Linked DNA regions of Homo sapiens. The protein of the gene in region 1 purifies or fractionates together with the protein of each later gene. This does not show direct contact. Each region holds a gene or a part of one and is shown on either strand. Other genes may lie near its edges.

Evidence for each region. The genes of interacting proteins can lie anywhere in the genome.
Region 2: the proteins of PIP5K1A (region 1) and NRP1 purify together in Homo sapiens (affinity purification with mass spectrometry; 2 studies listed by BioGRID and IntAct, with this or other methods). This does not show direct contact.

The regions. Positions count from the first base shown.
Region 1 is NC_000001.11:151,229,552-151,233,051, reverse strand, and holds part of PIP5K1A (phosphatidylinositol 4-phosphate 5-kinase type-1 alpha), read right to left. Parts: intron 1,382-3,500; coding exon 1,251-1,381; intron 805-1,250; coding exon 687-804; intron 502-686; coding exon 349-501; intron 1-348. UniProt on the Homo sapiens protein: Catalyzes the phosphorylation of phosphatidylinositol 4-phosphate (PtdIns(4)P/PI4P) to form phosphatidylinositol 4,5-bisphosphate (PtdIns(4,5)P2/PIP2), a lipid second messenger that regulates several cellular processes such as signal transduction, vesicle trafficking, actin cytoskeleton dynamics, cell adhesion, and cell motility.
Region 2 is NC_000010.11:33,328,168-33,331,667, reverse strand, and holds part of NRP1 (neuropilin-1 isoform a precursor), read left to right. Parts: intron 1-785; coding exon 786-960; intron 961-3,500. UniProt on the Homo sapiens protein: Cell-surface receptor involved in the development of the cardiovascular system, in angiogenesis, in the formation of certain neuronal circuits and in organogenesis outside the nervous system. Mediates the chemorepulsant activity of semaphorins.

The DNA of each region.
Region 1 (3,500 bases):
CTCGGCTCACTGCAAACTTCGCCTCCCAGATTCACGCCATTCTCCTGTCTCAGCCTCCTGAGTAGCTGGGACTACAGGCGCCCGCTACCACGCCTGGCTAATTTTTTGTATTTTTAGTAAAGACGAGGTTTCACCATGTTGGCCAGGATGGTCTTGATCTCCTGATCTTGTGATCCTCTTGCCTCGGCCTCCCAAAGTCCTGGGATTACAGGCATGAGCCACCGTGCCTGGCCTGAACTACACTCTTAAGATAGAAGTGCTGACACTGTTTTACCCTGCTGAAGACAGCCTCCCCAGCCTTGCCCAGAAGTGAGCAGCACAGGTGGACAGTGCTTCTCTCTCCCTTACCATGTAGTATCCTGGAAGCAGCTTCTGCAGAAATTCCGCCTCTTTATGTTGGACTGTCTTAATAATGAACTCATCGTCGCTGGACACATAGAATAGGGAACCACTAGCTCCAGAGCTACAGAGTTCAATCAGCGGCTCACTGCAGAGGGAATACTGGGGCAAACAGAGAAGAACTAAGAGATTTAGACACATCAGGGCCTTGCCCAACACAAAAATCAACTACAGATGCAATTCTTTTCTAAATAAAAACCAGAGCGAGACTGTGGAGAAAAGGGGCCTTCCTTTGGGAATATCCCTCTGATACTGGAGTCACAGTGTCCTGATATCCAGATGCTTACCAAGTAATCATCGGGCCGGATACCAAATAGCTCCCGGAAGTAGCGGAAGGCAACAGGTGCATAGGTCTTGAAACGAAAGTCATTGTAGTGATGAGCAGGGGTCAGGTTGCTCCCTTCACTGTGGGGTTAAACAGAGGTAGCCATAACTTGCCAGTCCCTATCATCCAGAGAATCTACCTTGCGAAGACACTCAGAGTCACCTCATGGTGGGGGGAGTGGGGGAATACATTCCTCCTAAGATAATCACAGCCCTTCTTAGATGAGTTAGTGAGACAATGGCACAGCATGGACAGCAAGACATAAGAAGAAGAAGAAATCACACTGCCTCCTATCCAATGCATTAGGTTGTTTTTTACGGGTCAATCCATAGGACAGAGGCTAATGGAAGCATCTAGAGGACAGTATCTGCTCTCCGAACTCTCTAGTCCCACATCGCCCTGATTGTAACCAGGTTAAGAAATGGACACATGTCTAAATTGTCCGACCTGAACCCCTAAAACTGCCCTGGGCTGATTTGAAAAGGCCACATTTCCAGGACATGCTCCTGAACATTAAACTCTGTACCTGGGAAAGAAGATACTCTCAACCACGTAGAAATCTTGCATGAGGACATCACGCTCTGGTTTGGTACTCAGGCTCCCCACAGTGTGGGTAATGCCTAACTGGATGGCACCTTTCAAGGCTGATGAGGTTGTCTGAGAAACAAGAGAAATGAGAAGAAAATTCCTAGTATAAGTAGGATCATAACAATAAAAATTCAGAAAGGGGAAGCTAGAAGGAACACTTTAAAACAAACATCCTTTAGTCTGAGCAATAGTTCAGATAAAACTGGGACAATCCAGTTTCCCCATCCCTATGCTGTACTCTGCAATTAAGCTTAGTAAAGATTGGAAGGACAGTGAGGATACAGAGTAGCAAAGCTGGGACTCTCTGAGCCAGCCTCAGCTAGGCAAGGTGCTCCCTCCTGTTGGCCTGCCTAAACAAGAGTTCCATATTTGTATTTGGAAGATACATTGTATTGACACAACGTTCTTAGTTCTCACTCCTAAGGTTTCTGCCCCCAGAGTGTATCTGGAGCCCTCTAAACATTTCCTTCATCTGATATCGAATGTAACTAAAATTAACCAATATTCCTTTTTTTTTTTTTTTTTTTTGAGACTAAGTCTCACTCTGTCACCCAGGCTGGAATGGAGTACAGCAGCATGATCTCGGCTCACTGCAAACTTTGCCTCCCCGGTTCAAGCGATTCTCATGCCTCAGCCTCCCGAGTAGCTGAGATTACAGGCATGCACCACGACACCTTGCTTATTCTTTATATTTTTAGTACAGATGGGGTTTCACTATGTTGGTCAGGCTGGTCTCAAGCTCCTAACCTCAGAACTCCCAAAGCTCTGGGATTACGGGCATGAGCCACCATGCCCAGCCCTAAAATTAACCAATATTCTGATCTGACTGCCTGGCGGCAGAAACTTCAGTCCTCTAAGGAAGGGCCTGACTAGTGTGTCTCAAGGCCAACAGGGTGGGGTGGGCGCGGGCGGAGGCTCACGCCTCTAATCCAAGCACTTTGGGAGACTGAGGTGGGCAGACCACTTTAGGCCAAGAGTTCGAGACCAGCCTGGCCAATGTGGTGAAACCGTCTCTACTAAAAACACAAAAATTAGCTGGATGAGGTGGTGTGCACCTGTAGTCCCAGCTACTCAGAAGGCTGAGACAGGAGAATTGCTTGAAGCTGGGAGGCGGAGGCTGCAGTGAGCCAAGATCACACCACTGCATTCCAGCCTGGGTAACACAGCCAGACTGTCTCAAAAAAAAGGGCAACAGTGTGGTAAAAGAGCTCCTAACTGAAGAAGAAAGCATGAAAGACTCAAATTATTTCTGAGAGCAGTATTCAGACTTAGAATTATCAAACTTGGTCAAAACACAAATACAAGAGCCCCACTCTTACAATCCAGGATTCCAAGCCCGTGGGAAAGTATCGCATCATCTAGATCTTTGCTGTCTGATAACAGTAGCCACTAGGTACACATGGCTATTTAAATTTAAGTTAACTCAAATTTAAAACTTCATTTTCTCAGTCTTACTACTTACAGTTCAAGTGTGGCTACTAGCTACCATATTGGATAGCACAGATACAGCACATTTCAATCACTGCAGAAACTTTGATTAGATAGCTTTGCTCCATTTGCCTCATCCCCAACCTCGGCCAGGCATTACTTATATTTCTACTTGGTCCTCAATGGGCAATAAATTACAACTAGTTTTTTGTTTTTTTTTTCTTGAGACGGAGTCTCGCTCTGTCGCCCAGGCTGGAGTGCAGTGGCGTGATCTTGGCTCACTGCAAGCTCCGCCTCCCTGGTTGACACCATTCTCCTGCCTCAGCCTCCTGAGTAGCTGGGACTACAGGCGCAAGCCACCACACCCGACTAATTTTTTGTATTTTTTTTTTAGTAGAGATGGGGTTTCACCGTGTTAGCCAGGATGATCTCGATCTCCTGACCTCGTTATCCACCTGCCTCGGCCTCCCAAAGTGCTGGGATTACAGGCATGAGCCACCATGCCCAGCCTACAACTAGTTTTTTTCATGTACAAATAGGTCAAAGGAAAATAAATTATTAGTTTCTTTTTTTTTTTAAGTACCTGCCTCCCCAGTTATAATAGAAACTCATCTTTTTATCTTAATGTTCAACATATAAAAAGAGCTAAATGGCCGGGTGCTGTGGCTCATGCCTGTAATCCCAGCACTTTGGGAGGCCGAGACAGGCAGATTACCTGAGGTCAGGAGTTCAAGACCAGCCTGACCAACATGGAGAAACC
Region 2 (3,500 bases), on another chromosome or scaffold:
CAGAATGTGAGAATGTGGGTTACCATATGTGATACCCAGACCTGTGTGGTGGGTTATTTTTCACCCAACATTTAGGTAATTAGAATTAATGCCATGTGGCTATTTACTTTTCCTTCTGCCCCGTTGCTTTGATCCGATCTCCAAGCTTGAACAACTTTACTTGGAGAAGTAAAGCAGAATTATTTCTGCTTCACCAAATATACTTTGTTCTCTGTTGATTTGGATCTCAAGAGCAGAGATAACTCAAAATCACTTAGATTTATGGGCAGATAAAACAACAACAACAAAAGGTTTGGCTTTAAGCCAATCAAAGACAATCCCCACTGATCAATGACATAGACCAGGCTTATCATCAAAAAACAACACAAGGGGTCGAACAGCATCTTTCAGTCACTTTCCACTTAGAACTTGCTACTTAATGTGATTACACTTCTTGGGGGATAATTAAGTCTAGCAGAAGCTCCCAGGGGACCATGTTAACATCAATTGAGGGGATTTAATGTTTTTAATGCTAGAAGACCTTTTCCTTAGGAAGAAACTTCGGGGCTGGGGGGAAGAGTCCTCTCAGATCTCAGTTGGCTTTCTGCCTGAGTCAACCTTCCTGAGATCAAAGAGTGTTTTTTCCTGGAGTGTTGCACTCAGAGCCACACGAAGGACTTACGGGGACCTTTTAGAGTTCCCCTTAAAAAGTTAAGGAATGTTTAATAACCAGTAATTTACATATAAAGCTAGATTACCTAACAGGTTGTCAGGAAAGATCTGCTAAAATCTTACTTTCATTGCAGATAAATGTGGCGATACTATAAAAATTGAAAGCCCCGGGTACCTTACATCTCCTGGTTATCCTCATTCTTATCACCCAAGTGAAAAATGCGAATGGCTGATTCAGGCTCCGGACCCATACCAGAGAATTATGATCAACTTCAACCCTCACTTCGATTTGGAGGACAGAGACTGCAAGTAAGTGGGAATGTTTTTGAACAGGGCACCACAGCACCATCTAGTGGTCACGCCTGTCTACGGGGGGGAAGTCGGTGTGTACAATGTAGATTATAAATGGATCCAGGAGGGATTCCAATCTCAGCCAGATTATATGTCAATGGTATGGAAATTGAAGTACGTTAAGTGATTTCTGAGTTCCCCAAACCAGGAAGATTATAGTTAAATGTGTAAGCTCTTATACTCCTTCCTGTTAGCACTTTTGGTTTGGGAACTCTTGTTAAGAAATGTATACAGTATGTATGTTTCTTTTTTCTTTCTTTTTTTTTTTTTCCTGGAGAGGGGAAGAACTAGAAACTCAAAAATCTCACTTGTATTTTTACGAAATACAGTGGATCACTAATATACATCGCATCCACAGATAGTGTGATTGGAGATCTCACTATTTGAGATATATTGAACTGTGGCACATCTTATGATTTAAGAACTGCATTCATCTTACTAAGTAAGTTTGACATGGAAAAAGCAAATTGAATAAAATAAGGCCTACAGGATAAGCCAGATGAGGGGTTTTGTAAATGGTGGATTACTGATTAAAATACTTTTATGGAAAATGCTAGAAAATAATTGTTAAGACACGATGAATACAATGGGAACTCAAATACACATCAGTGTTTCATCCACCTGCTTAGTCTTGCTATCTCTTTCTATTGTTAAGTTTCTAAACATCAACTTATGCCCAATTTCGTTATTATGAAGACATTCTCACTATAGAGACAGTCGAAATTATATTTCCTCACTTTATGTGAAAGAACTGGTATGTGGATATTGCTTTCCACAGTATCGAAAGTATGTTTTTACCTTGCACGTAGCAGTCCACTCAGATACATGTTTGCTCGTCTCTCTTAACACCCAACAGACCCCCTGTCTCTGTCTTGTCCACATTATCCCATTCTGACCCACTGAAAGTGGTGTAGTCTCCAGAGACTTGAACCTGAATATCCATCTTTTAAGTTTGTACATATATAAATAGTTTTATCAAAGAAAAATAATCGATTTAAATCTCAATTCTAAAGTGTTTCTCAGGGACTGAGAGGTTTTCACAAGTTTTAAAGTGGGTCAGTTTGGTGTAACCGTATATGATATCTACAGACTACTGCTACCGCTGGACCTAAATATTATTTTGCAAGTATATTCATTGTTAAAGACAGTCTATTTGAACACACATTTCTTTTGGGAAAGAACAGAGTAATATCAAAATCTTCCTACCTGTAGGAAGTGCTCGACAACCTGTTGAGTTGGTTTAGTAAACTAGCTTTTCATGGTCAGAGAGATGAGGTCATTTGGTTCATTCAACATTTTAGTATCTAGAGAATTAGCATAAATCCACAGGCTGATGACCAGTTTCCAAATAATCAGTGTATACTACAGTGCAACAAAATTACACCAATTCCAATTTATCTTTGCTTTGTGATTCAGAAGTGCCTCAGGGCATTATATTGACTTTTTAATTGTGTATGGAAGTTACCATTAATAGTGTTCCAGTGACTGCTTGGAAACAAAGAGTTCATTGTATTGATTTATTTATTTTTGCTAATATTCTTTATGGTGGTTTTTACAGTGTCAATCACCTAGACAATCTGGAGACTTGTTTTCTTTTATATTTGATTTACTTCATTAGTAGTAGCAGTAGTTATTAGTATTTGCTTTTTGACCATGTTTAAACTGCTATAGGAGAAACTCTGGTAAAACATACTCAAGTAATAACATTATTCCAAAAAATAAAGTGCTGTTAGAATTCAATAAACTGACGTTTACTAATTTCTAATCTGGAAATCATGACCATCAATACGTGTAATATAATACTTAAAGAATTCAGAATAATCACTAGTTATTGGCAGTGATGTGGTGGTAAATGTTTAACAGCTGGCTCTTTGGAGAAGACGAGTCAAGTCCTCATTTGTATGTAGCACATGCCAATTTCTGTGGTGTAAATACTCTCATCATAGCCAATTTCAAACTAACCATGTGATGTCACTGTGCCCAGACTAGCAAAGAAATGTGCACAGTTGGTTCTTATGAGCTGGTGGGCGCCAGATCCAGCACACAACTGGAGTAGAAATTTAAGAAGGGAAGCCAGTTGAATCACTTAATATATGTAAAGGGCTTACAATTCTATTTGCACATACATTTCTTCTGGGAAAGAACAGAGTAATATAAAAATCTTCCTACCTGTAGAAAGCGCTCAACAACCTGTTGAGTTGGTGTAGTAAACTAGCTTTTCATGGTCAGGGAAATAAGGTCATCTGGTTCATTCAACATTTTGGTGCCTAGAGAATTAGCATAAATCCATAGGCTGATGATCAGTTTCCAAATAATCAGCGTATACTAATTATTACAACAGCATCTCACAGTATTACAATGGTGTCTAGCTCACAGTAAACCTTAAATAATGATTTGTCATATCATGGTGTCAGGTGGGGTATAATGGGATTAAAGGAGCACCTTTTTGGTTAGTTTTCTTTTTAAAAAGTACATTAAAAGATGATTGTAATTCACAG